Linked DNA regions of Homo sapiens: region 2 is linked to region 1. The links come from fine-mapping of genetic effects on gene expression. Tissue or cell type: thyroid. Region 1 holds a variant in brackets; the other region holds the start of a gene. All regions are shown on one strand. Distances are between the middles of the regions.

The links. PIP is the estimated chance that this variant, and not a neighbour inherited with it, causes the effect.
Region 2: it holds the start of SCTR-AS1, and the variant in region 1 is fine-mapped to the expression of SCTR-AS1 in thyroid (GTEx, PIP 0.97).

What each region holds. Positions count from the first base shown.
Region 1 is chr2:119,439,437-119,447,541 of GRCh38, reverse strand. It overlaps SCTR (secretin receptor), which reads left to right. Exons shown (of 13, transcript NM_002980.3): 11 at 657-783; 12 at 5,943-5,984; 13 at 7,285-7,699. The coding sequence ends at 7,425. Among named protein-coding and RNA genes, the nearest start is that of TMEM37, 12 kb to the right of the region's middle. The variant C/T (reference allele first, on the strand shown) is at 4,148.
Region 2 is chr2:119,471,988-119,480,079 of GRCh38, reverse strand. It overlaps SCTR-AS1 (SCTR antisense RNA 1), which reads right to left and starts at 3,626. Exons shown (of 2, transcript NR_147847.1): 1 at 3,122-3,626. SCTR (secretin receptor) reads left to right here. Exons shown (of 13, transcript NM_002980.3): 3 at 1,162-1,269; 4 at 6,524-6,627. RefSeq lists enhancers at 4,759-5,309, 5,860-6,411.

The DNA of each region.
Region 1 (8,105 bases):
AGAGACCTTCTCCATGGTGTTTCGTGTTTTGAGAATCTGACAGTGCCTCAGATTACTTGGTGTCAGATTCCTGGGGACCTGGGATAAAGTTGCCAGGTAAAATACAGGATGCCCAGTTACATTTGAATTTTGGATAAACAACAAATCGTTTTTCAATATTTATACCCCCACATGGTGTCCATTGTTTATCTGAAATTCAGATTTAACTGGGGATTCTGTATTTTTATTTGCTAAGTTTGGCAACCCTAATCTGGGAAGAAAATACAAGAATTTGTCCCTACAGATATTTATTATCTAGCAAATGAGAAAGCCGGCTTTGCTTGTATGATGTTAGACATAGAGCAGCAGTGATATAGGCACGTAATTTATAAATAAAGTTAATGGTGTAGGTACCGTTTTTTTTTCTTTTTACTGATGGAGGTGCATGATCAGAAAGTTTGGGGCTTTGCCATGAGTCAAAAATTGTTGTATCTGAGTGATGGATATGAGGGAGTTAGAAACTTTCAAAATAAAAAATGAAAACAAAAAAGTTTGGGGTACTGCTAGCCAGCCTCAGCAGTCAGTCCCGAGCTGGGGAGTGGCACAGCTGTGTGCCTACAGGAGGAGAAAGGGCGCAGGGAGGCAGAGTGGAGGCTACAGGCTTTCTGTGTCCCCAGGCGCCTGGCCAGGTCCACTCTCCTGCTGATCCCCCTCTTTGGCATCCACTACATCGTCTTCGCCTTCTCCCCAGAGGACGCTATGGAGATCCAGCTGTTTTTTGAACTAGCCCTTGGCTCATTCCAGGTAAGTTTCCAGGACTGGGGCTGCCAGCTGAAAAGAGGAGTTCTCTGTGTCCTTAGGGAGAAGTGGAGGGCATAGAGACTGCGAGCCAGATGCCTTATCTGGCAGAGACCCAGGGGAAGAAGGGGTCGGACCTGACAGTGCTACAGGTCCCTGAGTGGGATCCCTGGTCCCCACCAGTCAAATGGGGGTGGGAGATAAAACTAAGAGAGACAGAGAGACTGACTTCAGGGAAAATAAAAAGGAAAAGTAGCCCCAGTACACTATATTGTACAACTCTCAATAACATATACATGGTCAAAATAACGTAAGCGCGGATGGCCAAGTCATCAAACACTGGGGCGGGAAGATGAGCCTCGCGGGAGCGTGGGGCGGGTGTTTGGAAGAGAACACTGTCCTCATCTTCACACTGGGAAGTCCATAGAAAATGCCCTAGACTGAAAACTCCTCAAGTGGCGACACCAGCATATTTTTTAGAAGCAGTTAAGAGAGTTTCAAGGAGCAGTCGCATGTGAGGAAAAGGAAGTGAGGGTGGGGTGTCAGGAGGCTGCTGGTTCTGTAACAGGAATCCTTTGATTCTCTGAAACCATGTGCATATGCAAATTATTAAAACTAAAAACTGACTTTAAAAAATAAAGTGAGGTGGAAAAGCGCTTACCTACTAATTCCACAAGATGCTGTGAACTTAAAAACAACAACAGTAAACGTGTTTGGGCAGAGGGAGCCTGAACGTGAATCCCAAACTTCACAATGCCGTTTGTTTATTTACTCATAGCTATTTCCTTCCAAAAATAATGCAATGTCGCTTTTGGGAAAAACATACAAAGGACAAAAAATAAGTCGATGAAGGATCAGTGAAAAAAAGAATGTACAACTGGTTGGGTTGCTACACAGAAACAAATACGATAAAGTTCTATACAGGAGGGAGAGATGGGTCATAAGTATGATAGGGAGCTTCCCAGTAGCCAAAGCAAAGACAAAACAATTGTTTCAAAATTTCGCATATCCATAAGACAAAATCAAACTAACGGCCGGGAGAAGCCAGTGATTATAGGCTCTAGGCCTGAGACAAAATTCTCCCAGTAGTTTTTTTTAAAGGACTTAGTCCTTAACGACATTTCCACGGTAGGGCGATATTGTCCAGCCAAGCTTTCACTGGGGTGGCCTCGGCCTGCGAGCAGGGGTTCAAACCCTCCCCTCATCCCTAGAGCTCTGTTCAGGGTAGGGTCTTCCTGTTACTTACAGGTTCTAGGGAGGATGCCTCACTGGGGACACATCACTGAGTGGAGTCAGGTCTTGCCCTACCCATACCTTCAGACCACACCCTCCCCTAAGCTGGCCCTCTACCCAGTAACCCGTCAGTGCCCCAGACCTCCAGAGAACTCAGCCTCTGGCTTAATCCAGGATTCTTTTCCTCTCGGCCTGGGGGCCAGGGAGCTAGCTTTCCTCACCACTGCTCTTGTAACGTCCAGGGAGGCTGGGCACACAATGGCCCATCTAGCAGGTAGAGGATTTGAGGACCAGTCGGGTGGAAGGACTTGACCTGGCTCAGAAAAGGGACCATGCTGAGAGCTTGGACCCGGGTCTGCCTGGCCATGGATGGGGACTTCCTGTCCCTCAGAGTTGGGGCTAATGGTTGGGACTGTGGACTACTTCTCTAGGAAAATGTCTTGCCAAGAGAAAATCAAAAGCACTTTCCTGATGTTCTCATACGAATGTTGATGAAGAAAAAGGATCTTTTAAAGTTTTATACATATATATGTATATATATTCGTACGAATATATGTATATATATTCGTACGAATATATGTATATATATTCGTACGAATATATGTGTATATTCGTACGAATATATGTATATATATTCGTACGAATATATGTGTATATATATTCGTACGAATATATGTGTATATATATTCGTACGAATATATGTGTATATATATTCGTACGAATATATGTGTATATATATTCGTACGTATATATGTGTATATATATTCGTACGTATATATGTGTATATATATTCGTACGTATATATGTGTATATATATTCGTACGTATATATGTGTATATATATTCGTACGTATATATGTGTATATATATTCGTACGTATATATGTGTATATATATTCGTACGTATATATGTGTATATATATTCGTACGTATATATGTGTATATATATTCGTACGTATATATGTGTATATATATTCGTACGTATATATGTGTATATATATTCGTACGTATATATGTGTATATATATACGTACGTATATATGTGTATATATATACGTACGTATATATGTGTATATATATACGTACGTATATATATGTGTATATTCATACGTATATGGGTATATATATTCATACGTATATGTGTATATATATTCATACGTATATATGTGTATATATATTCATACGTATATATGTGTATATATATTCATACGTATATATGTGTATATATTCATACGTATATATGTGTATATATTCATATGTATATATGTATATATTCATATGTATATGTGTATATATTCATATGTATATGTGTATATATTCATATGTATATATACATATGTGTATATATTCATATGTATATATACATATGTGTATATATATATAAGAATATGTATATATATTCTTATATATACACACACATGAGAAAATGTTTTTCATATACAAAAGTGAAGAGAATAGGACAATGAACCCCATTACCTATCCCCAGCCTCAGCGGTATCCACTCATGGCCTGTTTGTTTCATCTCCATCCCTACCTACTACCCCCATCTTTTTAAGTAAATTCAAAACATCATGTTATTTCATCTTCAAAGAGTTTAGTGTGCATTTCTAAAAGACGGGGCTTAAAGAAGAACACATACAACTGTAATAACACCATCACTGTCATATACTCTTTAAAAATGTATTTATGGCCGGGCGCGGGGGCTCACGCCTGTAATCCTAGCACTTCGGGAGGCCGAGGCAGGCGAATTGCCTGAGCTCAGGAGTTCGAGACCAGCCTGGGCAACATGATGAAAGCCTGTCTCTACTAAAATACAAAAAATTACCCAGGCATGGTGGTGTGTGCCTGTAGTCCCAGTTACTCGGGAGGCTGAGGCAAGAGAATTGCTTGAACCTGGGAGGCAGAGGTTGCAGTGAGCCGAGATCGCGCCACTGCACTCCAGCCTGGGTGACAGAGCGAGACTCCGTCTCCAAAAAAAAATATGTATTCACTCTTTCTAATTGTATAAATAATGCTTGCTTATTGTGAATAATTTGGGAAATAAGGAAAAGTTTTTCAAAAAAAGAAAAATAATAAGAAAAAAATCTAGAACGTCATAACCCAGAAATAACTTCTGTTAAAGTGTTGGTGTGTTTACTTC[C/T]GTCTCTTTTCTTTCCACAAAGATACACACACATAATTGGGATCATGATGTGTATGGTTTTGTATCTTGCTTGTTTTGTTTAATTCTCTATCATGCCCATCATGAGCATTTCTTCATGTCATTAAAATTCTTCAAAGTCTTCATCCTTAATGATCGCAGAATCACGGTGGAAATTAGTAAACTTGCTGGCTTGTGTGAGGCCTGCCCTATATACACTGGAGCACAGCTAACTCCCTCCCCTGAACAGTGAAAATGTGTCCCTGGACCCTAGCGCAGCGGAGGCCAGGCAACCCTAGCCCATGCAACGGGCAGCATCCTTGGCCTGCTCGTGGCTCTGGGCCAAGCACACAGAGCTCCAGGCATGCCTAAACCCCTCCGTGCCTCAGTTCCCTCGCTTGTGAGGTGAAGATCCTCCCACCTGCCTCCGAGAGCTTTGGCGAGGTTAAATGAAGCACCTGGGACCTACAATTACTCAGGCCTAGCTGTGCTCCGATCCAAGTCTGTTTCATTTCAAAGCCTGCCTTGAAGTGCCTTTTACTCCCTCTCTGACAGTAGTTCCCGGACCATGATGCCCGTTTTTTGGAACTGTGTGGGGATCTTTAAAAGCTGCTGATGCCCCCAGCTACTGGGATCTGGGGAGTGCAACCTGGATAAAAGGTCCCAGGTGATTCTAATGTGCAGCAATACTTGGAAACCGATGCCCTGAGTGTTTCTGCCCCTCAAATAGTCCCCAGTCTATGTAGCAGTCATTGATACCTGAAATTCTAAAGCAAACCCTTCCAGCTTCGCCACTAACTCTTTTTAAAATGCCAATATCCCTGAGAAGTTGTACATATTAAGCCCACCATCGATGAGCTGATTCATCACCCTTCGAGGTTCCTTTCCAATATCATAAGTAGCTACAGGCAGGCCTGGGTGGGACTAGGGAGGAGGAGTTGGGCCATCTGAGGTCAGGCCTCTGTGTGGGGAGGGCAGGCCCGTAAGGGAGAGAAGGGTGGCCTGAGGTGGGTCCCTGAGAAAGGAGAGGAGCAGGGTGAATGCGCCGCAGAGACACTGCTTCCTGCTGATCTGGAGGCCTCTTAGGCTCCAAGCAGGCGCCCCAGCCTGGAGTCCCTCCCCTGACAGAGCTCCACACCAGGATCCTGGGGGCACCATCAGGAAATCAGGAGCTCCAAATACCAGGGAGGGAGGGTCTTACAGGCACAGACCTTGCCACACCAGGGAACATAAAACTCTGAGCACGGAGGTGCACCCACCTGTCCATTAAGCAGGGAGCTCCAACCCTGCTCACCACTGGCTGGCCGGGACCTGTACATAGTTTGTTCTGCCTACACATTTGTTTTTCAATTTGAATTAGTTATCTACATTTAAACATATTCAGATTTCCAGTTTATCTTGAAATAAGACCACACAGGGCCCAGGGTCTCACCCTGGGCAGCCTGCACTCCTCCTGGCAGAGTGGGCGGACTTCAGGTGCCACCCATCCCTGTGGCTCCCAGGTGAGCTTCCTGATCCCGGCTGGCTGGGTTAGCAGCCCCCCTGACACCATATGTGTTCAAAAGGGAGCCTACCCTTGGCTGCAAGGAGTTCACAGTTTATGCTGGATGAGCCAGCACAGCCAGGGCCACCGTGGGCAGCCCACAAGAGGTAGCCTAATTCCCAGTGAGGCAAGAGAGGTGGGGAAATGAGCCTGTAGCTGGTGATTAAGAGACCTGGGGAGGGTGCAGCTGGCCAGCTGGTTCAGGCCGCATGCTGAGCACCTGTGCTAACCCTGCTACCTCTCTTCTTCTGGCAGGGACTGGTGGTGGCCGTCCTCTACTGCTTCCTCAATGGGGAGGTGAGTAGTCTTGGGTCACCCAGGTACCCAGGAGAGCTCCTAGCCATTGGTTTCCGGGTCAGAAGGAGCTACCTGGGAGGGGTGGTAGGAAGGGGGATGGAAAGGGTCAGAGGGAGTCCTGGGTCTGGTGGCAGGTGGCTTGGCCAGTTCTTTTAGGAGTCTGAATTTGCTTAATGGGAGCAAGGCTTGTTCAAACCATGGCTGGACCCTGTTCCTAGTTTCTCATTCCACAGAAATAAATTCTGTAGGTCTGGACTGGGGTCTGAGAAAGTGTTTTTTAACAAGCATTCCTGGTGCCGATGTTGATCTGTTCAGCAAATGCAGGAGGAAAGTTGGGCAGAACCCAGGTTCCTGACTGCCCTGCTGCTTGCTTAATGGGCGATCTCAGTCACTGCCCTGTTCTGGGCCTCAGTCTGCCCATATGTGAAACGGGTGACTCAGAACTGTCTGCAGCTCAATCCTTAGGGACCTCCAGATGAGCACTGACTCCTTGGGAGACTGCACACTCACTTTGAGGACTCGAGCCTCACATGGAGCATCTGGGTCAGGACCCCAGGCTCTGGGCATACAGAGCTATGTGGTTAACATGAGCTAAGGCTTTCTGTGACTACTGACCATCTATCTGGTTTGTTGCACTTGAATGGGAGTGATCTTTGATGTTTCCCAAAAATCAAATATCAAGCCTAGCTTCAAAGGTTCAGCTGCTGCAGCTGGGAATTGTGAAGGAAATTTACAAAGAGAAACTCCCTAGTTCCCAGATCAGTTCTGAGCTTGGGTGGCTTCCTGGGAATAAGTGGGGACCCATCTTAAATCACTTAAAATCACTGGGGACCCATCACTGAGTGGAGTCAGGCCTTGCCCTACCCACACCTTCAGACCACACCCTCCTCTAAGCTGGCCCTCTGCCCAGTAGCCCCTGTCAGTGCCCCAGACCTTCAGAGAACTCAGCCTCTGGCTTAATCCGGGATTCTTTTCCTCTCAGCCTGGGGGCCAGGGAGCTAGCTTTCCCCACCACTGCTCTTGTAATGTCAAGGGCACACACTTGTCCCAAGGTGCACAAGTCCTTTCTTTAAGACACGATGTAATGAGATTGCAGGTGCATGTGCCCAGGAGAGAGGGGACCCTCAGTAGCTACTGGACATTGGGGCTGGAAACAGTCAATCTGCGTGGCCTGCAGGCTAGGGGACAGGGCAGCTGGGCAGGAGTGGCAGGGCCTGCGTGGAGTCACTGGGGGAGTGAGCAGGGCTCCAGGCACAGAACTGTCCTCTCCTCCTGGGCTGATGGCTGGTCTCCCGGGCAGGTGCAGCTGGAGGTTCAGAAGAAGTGGCAGCAATGGCACCTCCGTGAGTTCCCACTGCACCCCGTGGCCTCCTTCAGCAACAGCACCAAGGCCAGCCACTTGGAGCAGAGCCAGGGCACCTGCAGGACCAGCATCATCTGAGAGGCTGGAGCAGGGTCACCCACGGACAGAGACCAAGAGAGGTCCTGCGAAGGCTGGGCACTGCTGTGGGACAGCCAGTCTTCCCAGCAGACACCCTGTGTCCTCCTTCAGCTGAAGATGCCCCTCCCCAGGCCTTGGACTCTTCCGAAGGGATGTGAGGCACTGTGGGGCAGGACAAGGGCCTGGGATTTGGTTCGTTTGCTCTTCTGGGAAGAGAAGTTCAGGGGTCCCAGAAAGGGACAGGGAAATAAATGGTGCCTGGGATGAGATTCAATCTATATTTGTCCATCCTTTTGCCTTGACACAAGGTGAGGGTGTACGCTCTTGCCTGCTCCCAATGCCTTCCCGCAGGAGGCGGGCTCCTCCCTGGTCCCCCAGCTCAGTTACTCAGGGACCAGATTAGAAGGCCCAGCCAACATGAAATGTTTGCCCTTGGCGGATGCTGTCTGTCTCCTACTGTAACTCACCTGGTTAGCAGCTCTCACCCAAACCTTCAGGACAACAGCTAAAATAATATGATAAAGTCACCACGGAGGCCAGGGAAGCCCCAGGGCCCCCAGTCCCTTTTACTATCCCCCCTTTTACTACCCCCAACAGGGTGTGAGGGGGACACCCCTATTTTTCCTGCTCTTCCACACAGATGTCCTCGGCCTGAGGCAGACACAGCAGGAAATGGGGCA
Region 2 (8,092 bases), 33 kb before region 1:
GACAATAATTATTGTGCCTATGGACGAGAATCATTTGCATTGCTACCAATCATCTAGAACTTACAGAGTTGCAGTGTAGCTCGAAGACAATAAAAGACCTGACACCCCATTGAATCAGATAATCCAGAAGGCTGTGCTTAGACAATGCCTAGTTTTGCATTGAAAACACCTAGTAATTTTTTTTATTCATCTTAAAATCTTTCAGTTTTCAGAAGTGGGCCACGCATCTGGCTCTGAGCTTCCTAGCAGCCAAATCAAAGAGGAAACCAGCTTCAAATGTAGTGTCTATGTATACTAGTCGTTCACAATAAGTTCAGCTTCTCACTGCATTGAGACCTGGTTCTCCTTCCAGAGGGGCCTCATCAAGGGAACTCAAGTGATGTAGAAAGCAACATCCTCAATAATATTCTTGCAGCAAATACAGTGGTGACACTTGTGGAGCTGTGTCCATAGGCCAGGGCAGTGGCTCTGAGTGTGGTCCCAGGACAAACAGCATCAGCATCACTTGGGAACTTGTTAGAAATGCAGATACTCAGGCCCCACCCCAGACTTACTGAGCAATCTGTGTTTTAATAATCCCTCTGGGTGACTCTGATGCAAGCTGAAGTTTGAGAATCATGGGACAAGAGTTCTCAACCCTGCAGTCAAACGTTAGAATTACCTGTAAGGCTTTCAAAGGACATGATGCCTGGGCCCACCCAAACCAATTCATGCAGGATCCCTGTGTGCCACGCCGGCTAGGTCTATTTCTAAAGCTCCCCAGGTAGTCGTACCATGAAGCTAGAAGGGAGACCCATTGCTGCTTAGTTGTTTAATGCAAACTGATTGGCCAACAGATGTGCCATCTGCTCCAGAGAAATCCAGACCTTTACTTGCAAAGCTTATAGGAGAGGGCGCCTTCCTTCTTTCCTTCTTCCCTTCCTCCCTCCCTTTCTTACTTCCTTCTATCTTCAACACTGAGCACTACCGTGTACATGGCAGAGTCCAAGGGTGCATTAGACAGGATAGGTTCCTGATCCTGAGGAGTCAGCACCTAATGAGAGCTTTGAAAGTAGTCTAGTGGGAATTCCAGGCAGGCAAGGGTGTCGGTGATGTGGACAGGATGGTAGGGCAGCCCTCGGTCCATCCCCCATCCTTGTCTGATGCTGCTTTTCTTGGCAGGTTGTGAGGGGATGTGGGACAACATAAGCTGCTGGCCCTCTTCTGTGCCGGGCCGGATGGTGGAGGTGGAATGCCCGAGATTCCTCCGGATGCTCACCAGCAGAAATGGTAACCACTCGGCCCATGGGGCCTGGCGGACAGGCTGAGGGGTGTCCCTCTGGGTGGGGCCTCAGCTTAGAGGCAGGAGGCCAAGGAACCTTCTCTGAGGACAAGTATGGGTACAATGATGGGGGAGATCACTGCAAAGGATTAGAAGCCTTGCTTGGGAATGTGGGGTGGACTCAAATTCTGAGGGTGTCAAGCAAGGGGGCAGGAGGCAGTGCACTGGGGAAGGCGATAAGGGAGGCTGGGCCTGCTTCTGTCTTCCCCAGGCCCTTCAGCTAGGAGCTCTCTTCCTTCCTTCCATGTTTCTGCCCCCTTAGCAACCAGGGGCCTTGTTCCAGTCCCCATGTCTGGAACCCCTCCTGGTAGTGGCAGGCTCCCTAATGGCCTGGCCTTCCAAAATACTTCCTTCCACTGTCAGGCCCTGCTGAGAAATTGGCTCCCTGGGAGCCCCTGGCCTCCTGGGGCGAGGGGTTGTCTTACCAGAAGACAGCTGCGGATTTAAGAATTTTCCTAGTTGACTCACATTGATTAGAAGTCGACCATGCACTGGACATTTTTATATGTACATACGGGCTCATTTATTCATCATAAACCCCCTGCAGATCACAGGACTTTTCCCTTGATCCAGTAAAGAGTAATAATAACAGGGACTGAGAAAAGCTGTGCAGCTGCCCCTCTTTCCTGGTCCATGCAGGACAGCAAAGCTGCCAGATGAAGCCTGAACAAGAATAGGTGATTTAACACTAAAACCCACCAGCCTTTCAAAGTCAGGCAAGGCAAAGATGACCACGGTTCAGAGACTGTGGGAAGGGAGTGGAGATTCTTCTCACCATAATTCTGCTGTACATACGCACATGTGTGCACACACACACATATTTGGGGAACATGCTGCTCCCTCGAAGCCTCACTCAACACCCTACACTATGGGAACTGGGGGAAATGAGGTAGACAGGCTTGAAACCCGCTCCTCCAATTCCTGGCTTGGTAATGCTAGCTGCTGTAACAGACAATGCCCCACATCTCAAAGCCTTCATGCAAATTTGTCCACAGAAAGTCCAAAACAGGCTGGGTGCGGTGGCTCACACCTGTAATCCCAGTACTTTGGGAGGCCGAGGTGGGCGGATCTCCTGAGGTCGGGAGTTCGAGACCAGCCTGGCCAACATGGTGAAACCCCATCTCTTCTAAAAGTACAAAAATTAGCTAGGCGTGGTGGTGCACACCTGTAATCCCAGCTACTCAGGAGGCCGAGGCACGAGAATCACTTGAACCTGGGAGGCTGAGGTTGCAGTTAGCTGAGCTCGTGCCACTGCACCCCAGCCTGGGCGACAGAGTGAGACTCTGTCACAAACAAACAAACAAACAAACAAACAAACAAAAAACGTCCAGAACAGGAAACAGGTATTCCTGATTAGCAGGCAGCTCTCCTCTACACGGTGACCCCAGCACCCCACACCTCACAACCGTGGCATCACATAGTTTCCAGGCTGACTGGCGGAGAGGAAAGAACTCGGAGGACCACACAGCAGAGGTTCATAAGGGGCGGGCCTGGGAAGGATCCCACTCTGCCCACATTCCCTCGGCTAGAACTCAGTCACATGGCAACATCTAACTGCAAGGGACCTGGGGAAATGTCTTTTAGCTGGGTGCCAGTCAGCCCCGGGATCCAAGTTGCTCACTGCTGGGGAGCCTCAATTTTCTTGACTGTAAAATGGGGAAAATAAATAAGACCTGCCCTGTAAGGCTGTGCTTGGAAATAAATTTTGTCCCTTCTCCCCTACTCCTCTCCCTTCTTTTCCTTTTTCTCCTTCCCACCTTCCCTCCCCTACCCCTGCCACACACACCCCCGCAAGCTTACCAACTTTACCTGCCAGCGTGGCCCCTCCATGCTTGCCTCTGGGGTCCTGGGAGCTCAGGACACAGGAGATTAGTCCAGATGTGGCGGACCTAGAGCCCCAGGCTGGTCAGGTGCAAGGTCACGCCCAGACTCCACTTTCTGACTCCTGTGCAGTGCTCCTCCACAGCTGACCGGGTTTTTCTCCTGATGGAAAGGACTCGAAGCTCTTCTCCTTTGCAGCCGTCCCTTTTCAGCCTTCCCAGAGCCACAGCACCTCCGCCTCCCGCAGCACTGTCCCTTCTGCCCTGCAGAGGGGATAGGCGGAGCTGGTGCTCACGGCCACAAAGTGACCAGGTGCCAGTCCTGTCACATCCTTTCTCAATTAATTGCTTGAACCCCTCCCTGCCTCATTACGTAAAGGCTCAGTGTCTCCCTCTTGAGGCTCCCCTACCCTTGGATTGCTCATGGTCCGCGGCAGGAAGCTGGACCATGTCCACACAACGTGAGGATGGAAGCTGGGGTCCTGTGCCGACTCTGCTGCAGTTTCTTCTCGCCGCCACATGGTGTCGCTGTGGGCCTGCAGGGCCACACCAAAGGCCTGCCTATTGGGCTCTGGGCTCCCTCCAGGGTGGTGGGGGCCACGTTGTTCATACCCAGCCTGGGGGTGGGTGGCCCAAGAGCACAGGTCAACAGCTGTCTGGCCTCAATTTATCATCAAGAACTCCCACCCACCCCTCCTTCATCCCCATAGATCTACTTCTGGGTCTGATTAGACTCCTGCCCCTTCATCTCCCGGCAGGAAGGCAGGCTTCCCTAGGTGGTGCCCCCAACCCTAACCCCAGGGGGAGCGCCCAGTGAGGACAAGGTGCTCTGGAAAATAAATTAATTCTCCTTGAGGGCACCTACTACATGGGTCCTGACAGGAGGGGTGGGGTCCATGTGACTGGAGAAACCGCAGGCCGATTCTGCCCCCAGATGTTTCTGTTCATGCCAGGCCTAGAATGCTCCCTCTAGGGTGTATTCCTTTGATTCTGAAAAGGACGCTGGTCTTCCAGAGTTCCTTATTAAAAAACACAATTCCCCAGCGGCATCCCCTTGGCCCTCTTTCTCTTCCTACTTAGTGAGGATCTGGCCTTAAAGCGGTCATGCTTCCCAACCTGATTAGGGTCCCGGAGCCTTCTGAAAATCAGATGAAAGCTTTGGACTAGTCTTTCCCCGAACTGCATAAATATATATCTATATATCTATATATTTATATATATGCACATAATATATATATTTATTTTATATTTATAATATAATACAAATATAAATATAAATATCTATTTATATTATATATATAATATAAATATCTACATCTATATATATATATATATGCACAAACATCCTTTCAGGGGTCCCCTGAGGTGCACACTGGCCTGTGCCTGGTTAAGTTTCCCTTACCTATTAGGAATTCAGCCCTGGGGAAGTGGGGAGGCAGCTGCTTTGCAGCTCTACAGAGTGGAAGGCAGGGGGCCCTGCCTTGTTAGCAGCTCTGGGCACCTGGCCTGGGTCACATGCAGCATCTGTCTTGGGAGTCCTGCTGTGTCAGTGAGGAGAGGGCCCCAAACGGGCAGGCCTGCTGCCCTGGGCGAGCCCACAGGGAGCCCAGCCTCTAGGCACGCGCTGTCTTATAACCTTCGATTCTGGCCTTGGGGGAATTTGTGTTCCCTTAACTTGCTTTCCCATCCACCCAGCCTAAATTTGACCACCGTTGTTTCCCATCTGACAACCTAACTCTCTTGATTCAGTTCCAGAAACCTCCCCACCCCTCGCCTAAATTCCAAGATTCCAAGCCCCTCCCACTTCTGCCTATTTTAGAAAGGCCAAAAAGAGAGGGGAGTGATGCCTCGGTGCCCGCTCTGTGCCTGGCACCAGCCTAGGCATTTTCCGTGTGCTCTCATGTTCCCTGCTCACTCTTGCAGTGTGGGTGATTATTTTGTGGCACAGAGAAATGATGCACCGAAGGTCACACAGTGACCAAGAGGCTGCACTGGGTTTCAGACTCAGATCTGGCTGCTTCTAAACCTGCGCTCCAGGCCTCCTGAGCCTCCACAGGGCAGGCATGCCCAGATCTCAGAGGACACGGTCTCCTGGTCCTAGACGCTGCCCCTGAGACTTCAGGAAGAGGGCCCGGTGGGTGGGTAGAACAGTGATAGCATACGCTGTGGCTGGGCATGATAGCTCAATTCTGGGCCTTGGTGTTCTGTCCTGTAAAATGGGCAGCAGCACCTCCTTCAGTGGGGCACTGTGAGGATTAGACCCTAAACCCTGTTAGCCAGGGGCCCAGCCCCTGGAGACTGTGTAAAGAAGCATGCCACGCTCAGCTGGGGCTGTTAAGGCTCCAGTGAGAGCAAAGGGGTGGCAGGGCTCCTACCCACAGGACTCGGCCATCAGCATCCTGCCCCCTGCAACACTTACACCGGCCTGAGCTGGGGAGCCAGATCCCAGCCCTCCTTGGCAGCTCAGAGTACAGAATTCAGCGAGGCCATTCAGCCCGAGGAGGGAAACTCCTCACGGTGGCCTTCCAAGACTTCCCTCCTGGCTAGTGGCTCCCTTCCGCAGGCTGGGCTCCTGCTGTAAAAGCTCCAGTGGGGAAGTGCTCTCCTCTTCCCTATGAGAAGAGTTCAGGGCAGGCTCTTTATCCCCATTCAATTTGCCTTTCTGTCCAGCCAGCCAGCCCGCGTTTGATAAGCAGAGGCTCTGGGCCAGGCACTGGGGAGGCGGGGAAGCCACTGCCCATGTGGTGAGAGGGCCCAGCATGCGTCCTCGTGCCAGGGGTGGGGGGCAGTGAGCAGCTGAGCCGGAGGACTGTGGTGGTCTCACGATCTATTATGCAGAGAAATGCAGAGGGGTGGCCTACAGGTCGTGGCCGAAGGACCCTCCACCCTTCCGTGAGGGGCGCTGCCTGGAGGGGTTCATCTCAATGGCACTCTGGTGGTTTTCAAATGGCTGAGTGAGCAGGGCATGAAGTTCCATTTAAAACAGAACTTCCATGGAGCAGGATGAGTAAAAATGGGAGCCTGAGAAAAAGTCATGATGGGAGTGGCCAGGTACTGGGCAGCCACCACAGATTCTCCGGGGTACCCACCTGTTAAACGGTGGCAGGGCCTGGGATCAGGAGCAGCACCCGGCTGGGGTGAGAAGGGGGACTGGCACGTGGTGTGTGCTTAAGAGCTTGGGCTCTGGAGCCCGAGCCCCAGGGTTCAAATCACTTTCCCCCTATTTACTAGGGTGTGGTCTTGGGCAAGTTCTGGAACTGCTGTGTGCCTCAGTTTCCACACTATAGAGTGGTTGTAGCAGCTACATGTTACAATAGATGTTACTATGAAAATCACAGTGCCTGGGCCCATGGCTCACCTACAGGACTCTTGGCACCCACAGGTTCCTTGTTCCGAAACTGCACACAGGATGGCTGGTCAGAAACCTTCCCCAGGCCTAATCTGGCCTGTGGCGTTAATGTGAACGACTCTTCCAACGAGAAGCGGGTAAGCCTGTCAACCTCCACCCCACGAACCCGGGGACAGGAACCTATAGGGTGAGGAGGCCCTGGGAGAGGAGGCCCTGGGAGAGGACAGGGTGGCACAGGCCTGGGACAGTGGTCAGGATGTAAGGGCTACCCCCTGTCCCCATGCCTCCTACTCACAGAGGTGTCAGTGGGTCTGCCTCACTGCCCTGGTCTATCGACCCGGAGATGATGGTTAGGAGGAACCCAGGCACAGGTAGGAACTGTCGCATACCACCGCGAGACTGGGGGTGCTGTATTCATTCAACTGAAAGAGACGCTAACATAGTGGCTAAATGCTCAGAGCAAGGCTGGTGCGTCTGAATTCCGACCTTGACCTTAGTGGGGCTGGGGAAGATTTAATCACTACGTGCCTCACTTTCTTCATCTGGGAAATGGTGTTAATAATGCTGACAACATAGGCTTGTCAAGAGAACTAAATGAGTTAATATATGTGCATCCTGAGTTGGGCGCCTGGTCACAGTAAGTGCTCAGTAAATGTTTGCTTTTGGCCGGGTGTGGCGGCTTACACCTATAATCCCAGCACTTTGGGAGGATGAGGTGGGAGGATTGCCTGAGGCCAGGGCAACATAGTGAAACATTGGATCTACAAAAAATGTTTAAAAATTAGCTGAGCGTGGTGGTGCGTGCCTATAGTCCCAGCTACTCAGGAAGCTGAGGCAGGAGGATCGCCTGAGCTGGAGAGTTTGAGGATGCAGTGAGCAGTGATTGTGTCGCTGCACTCTAACCTGGGCAATGGAGGACAGGATTGAGCCCTGTCTCTTAAAAAAAAAAATGTTTACAGCATTCGAAGGAGTCTCCCGGCTCTGATAAGCAAGGAGGGAGTCCGGCTGCAGAGCTGCCCTAGCTGAGGGGATGCTCCCTTCGGCAATCGGCTGACCTTTGCTGGGGACCTCCAGAGGCTTCCTCTGAGGGTGGCCATCAGGGCCCTGTCTGGGCTCAGCTCACTCTGCATCACTGTCCTTTCCCAGGATGGCCCTTTCTCTCAAATCTCATGCACACTGTGCCATCCTGCCTCCCACCTGGGCCTTTGCCCCCGTTAGGGCCCCTTGCCTGGAGAGCACTTTCCTCCTCTCTTTTCTTGACTGATTCTTATATATCCTTTGAGACTCCCCTCGGGCCCATCCATGCCAGCCCTTTCTTCCCCTCCCCACGGGAAGGGCTCCCTTAGAGCCTGGTGTTGGCCTCCAACTATTACCTACCATGTTACATTAAAATGATCAGCGTGTGCCACCTGCCTCCATCTCTCTCACTAAAATACATGCTCCTCAAAGGCATTCATTCACTCCACAAACACTCACTGAGCACCTGCTGTGGGCCAGGGTTGGGTCTGGGCAAAATCACGGTGACAAATCAGAGAGTCTTGTTCATTTCCAGGCCCCAGTGCCCAGCACAATGCTTGGCACCTATGAGGTGCCCAATAAATA